2 separate regions of the Homo sapiens genome follow, and region 2 is linked to region 1. The links come from fine-mapping of genetic effects on gene expression. Tissue or cell type: whole blood. Region 1 holds a variant in brackets; the other region holds the start of a gene. All regions are shown on one strand. Distances are between the middles of the regions.

Region 1 (8,101 bases):
TAAGAAAAAGAAATTTCCCATTTTATATTACTCATATTCAAGCACACACTAATTTACCAGGGCCTTTGACTAAAGCAAATGAACAAGCTGACTTACTGGTATCATCTGCATTCATAAAAGCACAAGAACTTCATGCTTTGACTCATGCAAATGCAGCAGGATTAAAAAACAAATTTGATGTCACATGGAAACAGGCAAAAGATATTGTACAACATTGCACCCAGTGTCAGGTCTTACACCTGCCCACTCAAGAGGCAGGAGTTAATCCCAGAGGTCTGTGTCCTAATGCGTTATGGCAAATGGATGTCACGCATGTTCCTTCATTTGGAAGATTATCATATGTTCATGTAACAGTTGATACTTTTCACATTTCATATGGGCAGCTTGCCAAACAGGAGAAAGTACTTCCCATGTTAAAAAACATTTATTGTCTTGTTTTGCTGTCATGGGAGTTCCAGAAAAAATCAAAACTGACAATGGACCAGGATATTGTAGTAAAGCTTTCCAAAAATTCTTAAGTCAGTGGAAAATTTCACATACAACAGGAATTCCTTATAATTCCCAAGGACAGGCCATAGTTGAAAGAACTAATAGAACACTCAAAACTCAATTAGTTAAACAAAAAGAAGGGGGAGACAGTAAGGAGTGTACCACTCCTCAGATGCAACTTAATCTAGCACTCTATACTTTAAATTTTTTTAAACATTTATAGAAATCAGACTACTACTTCTGCAGAACAACATCTTACTGGTAAAAAGAACAGCCCACATGAAGGAAAACTAATTTGGTGGAAAGATAATAAAAATAAGACATGGGAAATAGGGAAGGTGATAACGTGGGGGAGAGGTTTGCTTGTGTTTCACCAGGAGAAAATCAGCTTCCTGTTTGGATACCCACTAGACATTTGAAGTTCTACAATGAACCCATCGGAGATGCAAAGAAAAGGGCCTCCACAGAGATGGTAACACCAGTCACATGGATGGATAATCCTATAGAAGTATATGTTAATGATAGTGTACGGGTACCTGGCCCCACAGACGATCGCTGCCCTATCAAACCTGAGGAAGAAGGGATAATGATAAATATTTCCACTGGGTATCGTTATCCTATTTGCCTAGGGAGAGCACCAGGATGTTTAATACATGCAGTCCAAAATTGGTTGGTAGAAGTACCTACTGTCAGTCCTAACGGTAGATTCACTTATCACATGGTAAGCGGGATGTCACTCAGGCCACGAGTAAATTATTTACAGGACTTTTCTTATCAAAGATCATTAAAATTTAGACCTAAAGGAAAACCTTGCCCCAAGGAAATTCCCAAAGAATCAAAAAATACAGAAGTTTTAGTTTGGGAAGAATGTGTGGCCAATAGTGCGGTGATATTACAAAACAATGAATTCGGAACTATTATAGATTGGGCACCTCGAGGTCAATTCGATCACAATTGCTCAGGACAAACTCAGTTGTGTCCAAGTGCACAAGTGAGTCCAGCTGTTGATAGCGACTTAACAGAAAGTCTAGACAAACATAAGCATAAAAAATTACAGTCTTTGTACCCTTGGGAATGGGGAGAAAAAGGAATCTCTACCCCAAGACCAAAAATAATAAGTCCTGTTTCTGGTCCTGAACATCCAGAATTATGGAGGCTTATTGTGGCCTCACACCACATTAGAATTTGGTCTGGAAATCAAACTTCAGAAACAAGAGATCGTAAGCCATTTTATACTATCGACCTAAATTCCAGTCTAACGGTTCCTTTACAGAGTTGCGTAAAGCCCCCTTATATGCTAGTTGTAGGAAATATAGTTATTAAACCAGACTCCCAAACTATAACCTGTGAAAATTGTAGATTGTTTACTTGCATTGATTCAACTTTTAATTGGCAGCAGCGTATTCTGCTGGTGAGAGCAAGAGAAGGCGTGTGGATCCCTGTGTCCATGGACAGACCGTGGGAGGCCTCGCCATCCATCCATATTTTGACTGAAGTATTAAAAGGCATTTTAAATAGATCCAAAAGATTCATTTTTACTTTAATTGCAGTGATTATGGGATTAATTGCAGTCACAGCTACGGCTGCTGTGGCAGGAGTTGCATTGCACTCTTCTGTTCAGTCGGTAAACTTTGTTAATGATTGGCAAAAGAATTCTGCAAGATTGTGGAATTCACAATCTAGTATTGATCAAAAATTGGCAAATCAAATTAATCATCTTAGACAAACTCATTTGGATAGGAGACAGACTCATGAGCTTAGAACGTCGTTTCCAGTTACAGTGTGACTGCAATACGTCAGACTTTTGTATTACACCCCAAATTTATAATGAGTCTGAGCATCACTGGGACATGGTTAGACACCATCTACAGGGAAGAGAAGATAATCTCACTTTAGACATTTCCAAATTAAAAGAAAAAATTTTTGAAGCATCAAAAGCCCATTTAAATTTGGTGCCAGGAACTGAGGCAATTGCAGGAGTTGCTGATGGCCTCGCAAATCTTAACCCTGTCACTTGGGTTAAGACCATCGGAAGTACTACAATTATAAATCTCATATTAATCCTTGTGTGCCTGTTTTGTCTGTTGTTAGTCTGCAGGTGTACCCAACAGCTCCGAAGAGACAGCGACCATCGAGAATGGGCCATGATGACGATGGCGGTTTTGTCGAAAAGAAAAGGGGGAAATGTGGGGAAAAGCAAGAGAGATCAGATTGTTACTGTGTCTGTATAGAAAGAAGTAGACATAGGAGACTCCATTTTGTTCTGTACTAAGAAAAATTCTTCTGCCTTGAGATGCTGTTAATCTATGACCTTACCCCCAACCCCGTGCTCTCTGAAACATGTGCTGTGTCAAACTCAGGGTTAAATGGATTAAGGGTTGTGCAAGATGTGCTTTGTTAAACAAATGCTTGAAGGCAGCATGCTCTTTAAGAGTCATCACCACTCCCTAATCTCAAGTACCCAGGGACACAAACACTGCGGAAGGCCGCAGGGACCTCTGCCTAGGAAAGCCAGGTATTGTCCAAGGTTTCTCCCCATGTGATAGTCTGAAATATGGCCTCGTGGGAAGGGAAAGACCTGACCGTCCCCCAGCCCGACACCCATAAAGGGTCTGTGTGAGGAGGATTAGTATAAGAGGAAGGCATGCCTCTTGCAGTTGAGACAAGAGGAAGGCGTCTGTCTCCTGCCCGTCCCTGGACAATGGAATGTCTCGGTATAAAACCCGATTGTACGTTCCATCTACTGAGATAGGGAAAAACGCCTTAGGGCTGGAGGTGGGACATGCGGGCAGCAATACTGCTTTGTAAAGCATTGAGATGTTTATGTGTATGCATATCTAAGAGCACAGCACTTAATCCTTTACCTCGTCTATGATGCAAAGACCTTTGTTCACGTGTTTGTCTGCTGACCCTCTCCCCACTATTGTCTTGTGACCCTGACACATCCCCCTCTCGGAGAAACACCCACGAATGATCAATAAATACTAAGGGAACTCAGAGGCTGGCGGGATCCTCCATATGCTGAACGCTGGTTCCCCGGGTCCCCTTATTTCTTTCTCTATACTTTGTCTCTGTGTCTTTTTCTTTTCCAAGTCTCTCGTTCCACCTTACGAGAAACACCCACAGGTGTGGAGGGGCAACCCACCCCTTCAAGCCTCTGCTCCTCCACCCTATAATTCTTTTATCACCTCCCCTCCACACACCCGTCCGGCTTACAGTTTCATTCCGTGACTAGCCCTCCCCCACCTGCCCAGCAATTTACTCTTAAAAAGGTGGCTGGAGCTAAAGGCATAGTCAAGGTTAATGCTCCTTTTTCTTTATCCCAAATCAGATAGCGTTTAGGCTCTTTTTCATCAAATATAAAAAACCCAGCCCAGTTCATGGCTCGTTCGGCAGCAACCCTGAGATGCTTTACAGCCCTAGACCTAAAAGGTCAAAAGGCTGTATTATTCTCAATATACATTTTATTACTCAATCTGCTCCCGACATTAAATAAAACTCCAAAAATTAAATTCCAGCCCTCAAACCCCACAACAGGATTTAATTAACCTCACCTTCAAGGTGTACAATAATAGAAAAAAGTCGCAATTCCTTGCCTTTACTGTGAGACAAACCCCAGCCACATCTCCAGCCCACAAGAACTTCCAAACGCCTAAACCGCAGTGGCCAGGCGTTCCTCCAGAACCTCCTCCCCCAGGAACTTGCTACAAGTGCCAGAAATCTGACCACCAGGCCGAGGAATGCCTGCAGCCCAGGATTCCTCCTAAGCCGTGTCCCATCTGCGCGGGACCCCACTGGAAATCGGACTGTTCAACTCACCTGGCAGCCACTCCCAGAACCCCTGGAATTCTGGCCCAAGGCTCTCTGACTGACTCCTTCTCGGCTTAGCAGCTGAAGACTGATGCTGCCTGATCGCCTTGGAAGCCCCGTAGACCATCGCGGATGCCGAGCTTTAAGTAA[T/CT]CTCACAGTGGAGGGTAAGTCCTTCCCCTTCTTAGTCAATACGGAGGCTACCCACTCCACATTACCTACTTTTCAAAGGCCTGTTTCCCTTGCCTCCATAACTGCTGTGCGTATTGACAGCCAGACTTCTAAACCTCTTAAAACTCCCCAACCCTGCTGCCAATTTAGACAATACTCTTTTGAGCACTCCTTTTAGTTATCCCCACCTGCCCAGTTCCCTTATTAGGCTGAGACACTTTAACTAAATGATCTGCTTCCCTGACTATTCCTGGATTACAGCTGCATCTTATTGCTGCCCTTCTTCCCAATCCAAAGCCTCCTTTGCGTCCTCCTCTTGTATTCCCCCACCTTAACCCACAAGTATAAGATACCTCTACTCCCTCCTTGGTGACCAATCATGCACCCCTTACCATCTCATTAAAACCTAATCACCCTCACACGGCTCAATGCCAATATCCCATCCCACAGCATGCTTTGAAAGGATTAAAGCCTGTTATCACTCGCCTGCTACAGCATGGCCTTCTAAAGCCTATAAACTCTCCTTACAATTCCCCCATTTTACCTGTCCTAAAACCAGACAAGCCTTACAAGTTAGTTCAGGATCTATGCCTTATCAACCAAATTGTTTTGCCTATCCACCCCATGGTGCTAAACCCATATACTCTCCTATCCTCAATACCTCTCTCCACAATCCATTACTCTGTACTGGATCTCAAACGTGCTTTCTTTACTATTCCTTTGCACCCGTCATCCCAGCCTCTCTTCGCTTCACTTGGACTGACTCTGACACCCATCAGGCTCAGCAAATTACCTGGGCTGTACTGCCACAAGGCTTCACAGACAGCCCCCATTACTTCAGTCAAGCCCAAATTTCATCCTCATCTGTTACCTATCTCGGCATAATTCTCATAAAAACACACGTGCTCTCCCTGTTAATCATGTCTGATTAATCTCCCAAACCTCAATCCCTTACAAAACAACAACTCCTTTCCTTCCTAGGCATGGTTAGTGCGGTCAGAATTCTTACACAAGAGCCAGGACCGCACCCTGTAGCCTTTCTGTGCAAACAACTTGACCTTACTGTTTTAGCCTAGCCCTCATGTCTCCGTGCAGCGGCTGCTGCCGCCCTAATACTTTTAGAGGCCCTCAAAATCACAAACTATGCTCAACTTACTCTCTACATTTCTCATAACTTCCAAAATCTATTTTCTTCCTCATACCTGACGCATATACTTTCTGCTCCCTGGCTCCTTCAGCTGTACTCACTCGTTGTTAAGTCCCACAATTACCATTGTTCCTGGCCCGGACTTCAATCCGGCCTCCCACATTATTCCTGATACCACACCTGACCCCCATGACTGTATCTCTCTGATCCACCTGACATTCACCCAATTTCCCCATATTTCCTTCTTTCCTGTTCCTCACCCTGATCACGCTTGATTTATTGATGGTGGTTTCCACCAGGCCTAATCGCCACACACCAGCAAAGGCAGGTTATGCTATAGTACAAGCCACTAGCCGGCCTCTTAGAACCTCCCATTTCCTTTCCATCGTGGAAATCTATCCTCAAGGAAATAACTTCTCAGTGTTCCATCTGCTATTCTACTATCCCTCAGGGATTATTCAGGCCCCCTCCCTTCCCTACACATCAAGCTCGAGGATTTGCCCCCACCCAGGACTGGCAAATTAGCTTTACTCAACATGCCCCGAGTCAGATAACTAAAATACCTCTTAGTCTAGGTAGACACTTTCACTGAATAGGTACAGACCTTTCCTACAGGGTCTGAGAAGGCCACCGCAGTCATTTCTTCCCTTCTGTCAGACATAATTCCTCAGTTTAGTCTTCCCACCTCTATACAGTCTGTTAACAGACCAGCCTTTATTAGTCAAATCAGCCAAGCAGGTTTTCAGGCTCTTAGTATTCAGTGAAACCTTTATATCCCTTACTGTCCTGTGTCTTCAGGAAAAGTAGAACGGACTAAAGGTCTTTTAAAAACACACCTCACCAAGCTCAGCCACCAACTTAAAAAGGACTGGACAATACTTTTACCACTTTCCCTTCTCAGAAGTCAGACATGTCCTCAGAATGCTACAAGGTACAGCCCATTTGAGCTCCTGTATAGATGCTCCTTTTTATTAGGCCCCAGTCTCATTCCAGACATCAGACCAACTTCCACCGTGCCCCCAAAAAAACTTGTCATCCCTACTATCTTCTGTCTAGTCATACTCCTATTCACCGTTCTCAACTACTCATACATGCTCTGCTCTTGTTTACACTGCCGGTTTACACTGTTTCTCTAAGCCATCACAGCTGATATCTCCTGGTGCTATCCCCAAACTGCCACTCTTACCTCTTGAAGTAAATAAATAATCTTTGCTGGCAGGACTATGCTGAATCTCCTTAGGCACTCTCTAATCAGATGTCCTGAGTCGTCCCAATTCTTAGACCTTTTATACCTGTTTTTCTCCTTCTCTTATTCCATTTAGTTTTTCAATTCATACAAAACTGTATCCAGGCCATCACCAATAATTCTAAATGACAAATGTTTCTTCTAACAACCCCACAATATCACCCCTTACCACAAAATCTTCCTTCAGCTTAATCTCTCCCACTCTAGGTTCCCACGCCACCCCTAATCCCGCTCGAAGCAGCCCTGAGAAACATCCCCCATTATCTCTCCATACCATCCCCCAAAATTTTCGCCATCCCAACACTTTACCACTATTTCATTTTATTTTTCTTATTAATATAAGAAGACAGGAATGTCAGCCCTCTGGGCCCAAGCTAAGCCATCATATCCCCTGTGACCTGCACGTACACATCCAGATGGCTGGTTGCTGCCTTAACTGATGACAATCCACCACAAAAGAAGTGAAAATGGCCCGTTCCTGCCTTAACTGATGACATTGTCTTGTGAAATTCCTTCTCCTGGCTCATCCTGGCTCAAAAGCTCCCCCACTGAGCACCTTGTGACCCCCACTCCTGCCTGCCAGAGAACAACCCCCTTTGACTGTAATTTTCCTTTATCTACCCAAATCTTATAAAATGGCCCCACCCCTATCTCTCTTCACTGACTCTCTTTTTGGACTCAGCCTGCCTGCACCCAAGTGATTAAAAGCTTTATTGCTCACACAAAGCCTGTTTGGTGGTCTCTTTACACGGACGTGCATGAAAGTGGCCGGGCACAGTGGCTCAGGCCTGTAATCCCAGCACTTTGGGAGGCCGAGGCAGCTGGATCACAAAGTCAGGAGTTTGAGACTAGCCTGACCAACATGGTGAAACCCTGTCTCTACTAAAAATACAAAAATTAGCCGAGTGTGGTGGCATGCACCTGTAATCCCAGCTACTCAGGAAGCTGAGGCAGGAGAATCGCTTGAACCTGGGAGGCGGAGGTTGCAGTGAGCCAAGATCACGCTATTGCACTCCAGCCTGGGTGACAGAGAGAGACGCCATCTCAAAAAATAAAAATAAAAAGTAAAGGGGAAAAAGCAGGCAGGAGGGGAAAGGGAACATTAAAAAAAAAAAAAAGAGGGAGGATATGGTCACTTTGTTTTGCGGCTTTGTTTAAGCTCACTGAATCCACATGTTGCACAGGAAAAAAAGGGAGTAGAAGGCCGGGCACGGTGGCTCACGCCTGTAATCCCAGCACTT
Region 2 (8,086 bases), 71 kb before region 1:
TACAGGCGTGAGCCACTGTGCCCGGCCCAGCCACACATTATTTTCAAATTAATAAATAAGTTAAAATTGCTGGCATGCAGTCATCTTAGCGAAACTGAAGAGTCAAAATGAATAGCTAGAATTCTCTGGGTGATGACCAGAACATATACCATGCTGAGTCCCGATGTGGCCGAAGGACACCGTGAGCTGAGCCAGCTAGCTAGCTTGGTTGTGGTGTGCTGGGAATGAGGGTTATGTTATCTGTGAAAGAGAATACAAATTCTGCAAAGTAAACCTGGCAGTTTGGGGAAAATGTGTTTAACTCACCCACTCCCCTCCTCGTTTGTACTATTGCTTTCCTACACTTTTTTTTTTTTTTTTTTTTTTGAGACAGAGTCTTACTCTGTCACCCAGGTTGGAGTGCAGTGGTGCAATCTCAGCTCACTGCAACCTCTGCCTCCTGGGTTCAAGCAATTCTCCGCCACAGCCTCCCAAGTAGCTGGGATTACAGGTGCATGCTGCCACACCCGGCTAATTTTTGTATTTTTAGTAGAGATGGGGTTTCACCATGTTGGCCAGGCTGGTCTCGAACTCCTGACCTCACGTGATCCGCCCACCTTGGCCTCCCAAAGTGCTGGGATTACAGGTGTGAGCCACCGCGCTGGCCAACTTTCCTACTTTTCAATTTGAGTTTACTCAGGGGTTGGAACATTTATTCCAACAAAATGTGCCTGATGTAACCTCTCAGTGATTAAGCACGCCTGCTTAGTATGCATCAACTTCAGCGCAGTATGTGCACCTCTCTGAGGACATCTCTACTAAGCCCTCAGTGACTGATGCTGCTTCACTTTCTTCAGGTGTATAAATTGAAAAGGCAATTTTTACCTGCTATGAAGTCCCAAGAAAACGGGACTTGGCTCCTTGGGCATATTAGCCTTTAGTCTTGTTAGTGATGATCAGATGTTGCTTGAGCATATTTGGAAAATAACTTTGTATGTTGAAATTTTGGGAAATCAAAGTATTATACTGCAAATCACTTGAAAGAGGGCAAATACCAAATGGTAAAGCTTAGCCAGATGTGATATAATCATTTCACTGAAGATATGAGATAGGTAAAATTTTTTTCTTATAGGTAATGAACACATTTGATTGTAATTTGAGTTAAAGTATTATAGTCCCTTTTAAAAAAAAAGCCCAGAATGTTAAAAGTGTGAACTCCATTTCAGCAAGTTGAAAACATTTGAGTGTTTAAGATATTATCACAGGTCTGCGTATTCCAGGTTCAACTTACTAGGAATTCTGGATTCTAAGTATTTTAAATTGAAGTTAAAGTGAAATCAAGTGTAAATTAATCTGTGATTTTTTTTTCGTTCTGGTTATTTTTAGGTAAATAAATGAGGTCAGGATGTGAGACTGGCGAATAATATATGCTGAGATAACCCATTACTGTGATTGAATTCCAGGAGGAAATTGAAGAGGGGTGATGACGCAAAGGTGAATACAGACAACATGAAAACGGCTAATACATGTTGGGAAACTTTTTTTTTCATTTCTTTTTCTTTTTCTTTTTTTTTTTTTTTTTGAGACGGAGTTTTGCTCTTGTTGCCCAGGCTGGAGTGCAATGGCACGATCTTGGCTCACTGCAACCTCCGCCTCCCCAGGTTCAAGGGATTCTCCTGCCTCAGCCTCCCAAGTAGCTGGGATTACAGGCACCTGCCACCATGCCCAGCTATTTTTTTTCTTTTTTTTTTTTTTAGTACAGACGGGGTTTCACCATGTTGGCTAGGCTGGTCTGGAACTCCTGACCTCAGTCGACCCACCTGCCTCGGCCTCCCAAAGTGCTGGGATTACAGGCGTGAGCCACCGTGCCCAGCCCAAGTGAAAAACTCTTTACCACAATTAATAGGTGAGTTCATTAGGGATGATAGCACACCCTTCAGAAACCGTATTTACTACAGATCTCCCACAACTATCACACTCAATACTAACTAAAAGGCCAGAGGATTGGATTCATATAACTTTTTTAAAAGTACACATATATTTTATAAATATAAGGATATTATTTGCACTAGCAATTTATCTGTATTCCTAAAGTGTCATACAAATGATTCTTGCAAATCTGTTTTAACTAGGGAGAAAACAATGTATTGAGATAGTTGGACTAGACCTATCTACCACTAACACTAAACTTGGAAGAAAAGATCCAAGAGTTCATAGCTTAATTCTAAACCATCTATGCTTCTCACTTGAAAACAGAGAAGGGCTGATGTAAATGAGTTGTGAGGGTATCTGACTACCTTAAAAGCAGAATATTTGAAGGTTTTAGCCCTGGAAGGATTCCTAGGTGAGAAGGCAGCACCTATTTCATATTCTACTTTTGGTTGCCTCCTGGCTTTTGTTTTGTGACCTCAACCAGACTCCTTGTGTAGGTTACAATTTATTTGTGGATGTGAACCCGGGCTCCTTTTGTAGGTTATAGTTTATTTGTGGGTGTGAACCCCCTTCCTTTGCCTGGTTCAATTTCTTCAGTGGTTTAGGAAAGACACCCCTCCAAGCAGTGGCCTGTTTTAAATCCGTAGGCCTCTCTTCCTACCACTCACTTCTTGGCCCAACCCCCCTTCACATTCCTCTGCTTGGGAAGATATTGGGGCAAAAAAGGCCTCATACATTTTTTATTAAGAAACCATTTTCTCTCTAGGATGGGCACAAGGTGCAGGGCTATTTCCTTACATTAGAAGGTATTTTAAAACCTGGGCTGGAGACGCCATGCTGTAAATTTAAAATAAAAAAAAAATGTAAGCCGAACCTTCTTTTTAACCTTAAGAATAGTCTTCACTATTCTCCACCACCTTCCCACCGGCTGTGTAGAAATAACGACCACCAAATGAGAATAGGCTATTTACTCAGAGCTGGCAAGAGTCAGCCGCGACCCATCACTTGATTTAACAGACTCATAGGCAGGCAGGGGAGTGGAAAAGCTTTACATATACTGAAAAAAGGGAGAAACTTCAGGTTGGCTCTGATTGGAGGATGTTGGCATCGGGAAGTTGGAGGAGGGCTATACTAGAAGCAGGGCTTCTTACGCGATTGGTGTGAGGAGCACATTTGGCTTTCTCTGATTGGCCCAGAGCTGGAAGCAGGGGCAAGAAATAGGGAAGCTGCCGGTTAAAGATTAAGTCCTGACCCTTCTGGCCGATTACTGAAGAGGTTATGGGTAGGAGGTCATGGTTAGGTTTGGCCATTCTTTGTATATTCAGTCTCTCAATTGGGTGAGGATTAGATTTTGTTTCTCTTGACCTAGCTAGCTTTTAGCTCCAAAGTTTTGTTTAACTTGGAAGAAGACAGCAGTTCTATTATTTCTGTCAAGGATAAACACAGACATTGGGATCTGAAAAGTATTATGGGAACATACATAAATATCTTCATAGTGAGGGTCAGGCCGGAGAGTCACCCTTTGCCTTAAGCTTCTCCATTTCCTTACTGAATTCCTATTTCTATTATAACTGACGCTTCACTAGCTTCCCTCCCTTTAGTGGAGGGCCCGGCCTCCTCCGCCCCTACTTTCTTCAGTCTTGCCCTTCGAGGGCAGGAGAAGACGGTTGCGCCCTACTAACTCTTCACCTTACAGTCCAGCTTCTCCCCCCACCACCCCGGTGCGCTCTCTCGGTTTGCTACCCTCTCCACCAGGCCTCCCCACTCCACCTGCGCAACGCCCCCAGCTCCGTGCTCTCCGGAGTAATCCCCCCTCAGTCGCACTCTCACAGCCCGGCCCCTGCCCCCGCCTCACCCCCAGTTGTGCCTTCACCTCCCGGTTCCTCCTAGACAGGTCCCCCAAGATACGCCCTCACAGTCCGGTCCCCCGCCGTCCTCTCCCGGCGCACGCTCAAGTCCGGTGCCTTCCCCCCGCAGACCCCCGAGGCGCACCCTCAAGCTCGGTGCCTCTGCGCCCCCCGCAGGGGCGCCCTCAAGCCTGGTACCCTTCACATGAGAGCCCCCCGGGCGCACCCTCAAGCTCGGTGTACCCCCCCATACCACCCGCAGGCGCGCCCTCATGCCCGAAGACTTCCCCCGCCCAGGTGCACCCTCAAGCCCGGTGCCTTCCCCCACAACCAGCGCCCCCAGGCGCACCCTCAAGCCCGGAGCCTACCCGCCGCCAGGCGCGCCCTACAGGCTCGCCCCGTCCCACCGCGCAGCGCCCCCCGCGCACTCTCTGGAGTCCTCCCTCCTGCCTGGTGCGGCCTCCGGGCCCGGTCGGCCCCCCTTCCTGCCCCCACACTCAGACGCGCGCCCGGCGTCTCCGGGTCGCTAGTTCCGCGCCTTCCTGCATGGAGGCGCGCCCCGAGAGGCTCGGACGCGGCCCCTTAGGCCCGGCATCAGCCTCCCCGGCCAGCTGGAGAAGTCAGGTCAGCTTCCTGTCCCCGAGCAGCTGCCCGGGGGCCAGTTTTCAAAACATATCCTTAGTCATGTAATAAAGAGATGTTCCTCTGGTCTCAACTCCCGATTTTTACTTTGGAGGGGCGAAGGCAGGCCTACCCTTGCCAGCCACCATTTCTCAATCACGTCGCGGCTGTGGAAAAGCAGCCGTCCTGTCCCTTCAGAAAGGAACTCGTATTTCCCCCTCGAACTTTTCTCGTCGGTGTGAGAGAAGGGCCCTCCATTTTCTCCTCAGGAAGCTTTCGCGGCCCGACTTCCTCTCACCACCAGGCCAGGAAGGCAGTGACGCCGCGGCGAATATAGCCGCGGCGGCCGAGGTTTCGCCATCTTGAGTGGAGGAGGAGCCGCGGTCGCCGCCATGCGGAGAGGCAGGGAAAGAGGGAGGAGGCGGCGGGCGGGCGAACGGGCGAGCGAGGGAGGGGGCAGAGGAGCCGAGTTAGCTCAGCCAGGCGGCGACTTCGGCGGCGCCACGAGAGCGGGCAGCGGAGGAGGTAGGGCTGGACAGCCGGGGGAGCCGGCGGCTCGGGCGGCTGGCCTGCGCGCCCCTCGGAGCGGGGCGGGGGCGGGGGCGAGAGGAGGCCGTAGCGAGAGGGCTGGGTGGGGGCGGGCGGAGGTTTCCGAGGAGGAAGGAGCGTCCGCCATTTTGGGAGCTTCGAGTCAACAATAAAGGACCGAGGGTGCCGAGCGGGAGTGGCCTCGTTGGTAGGACACGGGCCCGAGTCGCGAGGCTTGGGGTGAGGTGGTGGGGTCGAGGTCAGCGGTGCTTTGGGGGCTGTGGGGAGCCCCCCGGGCCGGCTCTGGGGGACTCTCGGGCGGAGGCCTAAGGCCTGGCCGGGCCTGGGGAGGAAGGCGGTCGGCAGCTGTGTGGGGTGGGAGCGCCTGAGAGGAGGCGAATATAGGAATGTGGTGCGCAGCAGGGTCGGCAGGAGGAACAGGCTAAGTACTCGGAGTAGCTTTATCGAAGATGAGGGAATATGAGGCCGAAGGGGGCGGCAAGGACTTAGGGGGATGATGGTGGAGGTTATAGGGTACGAGGCGGCCCTATAGGGGGCGGCAGGGACATGCTGTATTGGAGGGCTCGGTTTAGAAGCAAACCGGCCGCTGCTTGATTGCAGTAGGCCTTGCGGGTCAATAACAAGAGGGTATTTATGGAGCCCCCGACTCTTGGAGGAAAGGAGGGGGATTTCTGGTTTAGGGGGTCCATTTGGGGCCTCCTTGGGGGAGTCCCTATTGTTTGCTACTAATGGAGCGGTTGCTGGCTCATATTGCGCAGATAAGATTGCAGAGCCCCAACCTTTTGTGTTTATGGTCAGAAGTGTGTGTGTTTGGGGCGTGGGGCGGGGTGCGGGGGGACAAGAAATTTCCTTTCAGTTACGGGGTTCCAGTCATTAGTCAATGACTCTTTCCCGTATCTCTCTCCTTTCTCTTCCTCAGCCCCCATTTCCCTTCAGAATAAAACCCAGTCACTCCAACTTGCAGGCAAAGCTAGAAAAACTGCGCTGCATTTGCAAACAAAAGCTCTTGTTGGCGATGACGATACTGTTTTGGGTGTGAAACTGTCAATTGCTAACTACGATCTGTGAAGTGCTGTAATTAACTCCGCTAGGGGCTCCTCCCAACTAGTCTACGTTTCTTGTTGTTTGTTTTTTGTTTTTTTGTTTTTTGTTTTTGAAAATGTAGAAAACTTGCAAATCTAAATTGGGAAGGGGTAGGAGGAATATTTCCTTCTCTGAGAAAAAGCTGCAGTGCAGGTTTCAGTTTAAGAAGGGAGCAGTTATCACATAGTCTCATTTTGGATTTAAGGATATAGGAGGTCTTACTGTGCATGATGGACAGTAATGATGATATCGTTCGGTCTTTAGAGGTTGCCCTTTTCATCCTCTTAGTGCTCTGCAAACAGCTAAGTCTCTGTGAACTGCGTGATATCGCTGATCATAATATAAAACCGTCAATACAGGAAAGTAGCTGTTAACCATATCTGCTTAAGAGGTCAGAGTCTGAAGTAAACAGCTTTGTGTATGTGATAATCAGGATTTGCTTGTGAGCAACTTGTTCATTTTTTTTTTAAGGAAGGCATAATCAAGGAGCATTTTCTTCATAAATGTTGAGATCTGTTGACTTTAAAATTTTGAGTTTCACATGCCTTGGTGTATGGCAGAAAGAATCAGCACTCGTAAGCTAGTGTATTTTATATAAGAAATGTAACGGGGTTGCTGGGAGCGGTGGCTCACACCTGTAATCCCAGCACTTTGGGAGGCCAAGACAGGCGGATCAGCTGAGGTCAGGAGTTCGATACTAGCCTGGCCAACATGGCAAAACCCCGTCTCTACTAAAAATAGAAAAAATTTAGCTGCGCGTGGTGGCAGGCGCCTGTAATCCCAGCTACTCGGGAGGCTGAGACAGGGGAATCGCTTGAACCCAGGAGGCGGCGGTTGCAGTGAGCCAAGATTGTGCCACTGCACTCCAACCTGGGCGGCAGAGCGAGACTCCGCCTCAAAAAAAAAAAAAAAAAAAAAGTGTAACGGGGTTAAATCAAAAGCCAACAGAGTAGGGCTTTGTTTTCGTGTCTTTGTATGTTTTTATTAACTCCAATTAAAAGTAAGATTTCAGCCGGGCACGGTGGCTCTCGCCTGTAATCCTAGCACTTTAGGAGGCTAAGGCGGGCAGATCATTTGAGGTTAGGAGTCCAAGACCAGCCTGGCCAACTTGATAACACCCCGTGTCTACTGAAAAATACAGAAATTAGCCAGACCTGTAATCCCACCAAGCTACTTGGGAGGCTAAGGCATGAGGATCGCTTGAACCTGCGTGGTGGAGGTTGCAGTGAGCTGAGATCGGGCTACTGCACTCCACTCTGGGCAACAGAGTGAGACTCTGTCTCAAAAATAATAGGCCGGGCGTGGTGGCTTACGTCTGTAATCCCAGCACTTTGGGAGGCCGAGGCGGGCGGATCACCTGAGCTCAGTTGTTCAAGACCAGCCTGGCCAACATGTCGAAACCCCGTCTTTACTAAAAATACAAAAATTAGCTGGGCATGGTGGCGCATGCCCGTAATCCCAGCTACTCAGGAGGCTGAGGCAGGAGAATGGCGTGAACCCAGGAGGCGGAGCTTGCAGTGAGCTGAGAGCGCGCCATTGCACTCCAGCCTGGGTGACAGTGCAAGATTCTGTCTCAAAAAATACAATAAAAAATAAAAGTAAGTAAGATTTCCATTTACGGGATAATTTTAAACTGAGGTTGACTAGTTTTGTGGGTTTTGTTTGTTTGTTTGCTTTGTTTGTTTTTAAGTCAGAGTATTGCTCTTGTTGCCCAGGCTGGAGTACAATGGCATGATCTGGACTCACTGCAGCCTCCACCTCCTGGGTTCAAGTGATTCTGCTGCCTCAGCCTCCTAAGTAGCTGAGATTACAGGGCCACCACGCCCAGTTAATTTTTGTATTTTAGTGGAACGGAGTTTCACCGTGTTGGTCAGGTGGTCTTGAACTCCTGACCTCAGGTGATCCACCAGTCTTGGCCTCCCAAAGTGTTGGGATTACAGGCGTGAGCTACCGTGCCCCTCCTACCAGTTCTTTTTTTTTTTTTTAAACTATTAATTAGCTTTACTACTCTGGATTTCTTGGAAAGTTTTCTTAAAATTACTAGTGTGTTTAGTCTTCCGCGGATTTTTTTTTAA

The links. PIP is the estimated chance that this variant, and not a neighbour inherited with it, causes the effect.
Region 2: it holds the start of DDX6, and the variant in region 1 is fine-mapped to the expression of DDX6 in whole blood (TOPMed, PIP above 0.99). The same link has a PIP of 0.9 or more in blood mononuclear cells, nasal epithelium and tibial nerve.

Annotation. Positions count from the first base shown.
Region 1 is chr11:118,716,555-118,724,655 of GRCh38, reverse strand. LOC124902766 (endogenous retrovirus group K member 7 Env polyprotein-like) reads left to right here. Exons shown (of 3, transcript XR_007062912.1): 1 at 1-961; 2 at 2,581-4,463. Among named protein-coding and RNA genes, the nearest start is that of TREH, 41 kb to the right of the region's middle. RefSeq lists enhancers at 2,766-3,506, 4,247-4,988, 5,027-5,832, 6,641-7,446, 7,447-8,101. The variant T/CT (reference allele first, on the strand shown) is at 4,450.
Region 2 is chr11:118,787,916-118,796,001 of GRCh38, reverse strand. It overlaps DDX6 (DEAD-box helicase 6), which reads left to right and starts at 4,838. Exons shown (of 14, transcript NM_004397.6): 1 at 4,838-4,904. RefSeq lists enhancers at 2,953-3,062, 3,451-4,006, 4,623-4,732, 6,043-6,222, 5,681-6,238 and silencers at 4,063-4,352, 4,803-5,132, 5,763-5,842.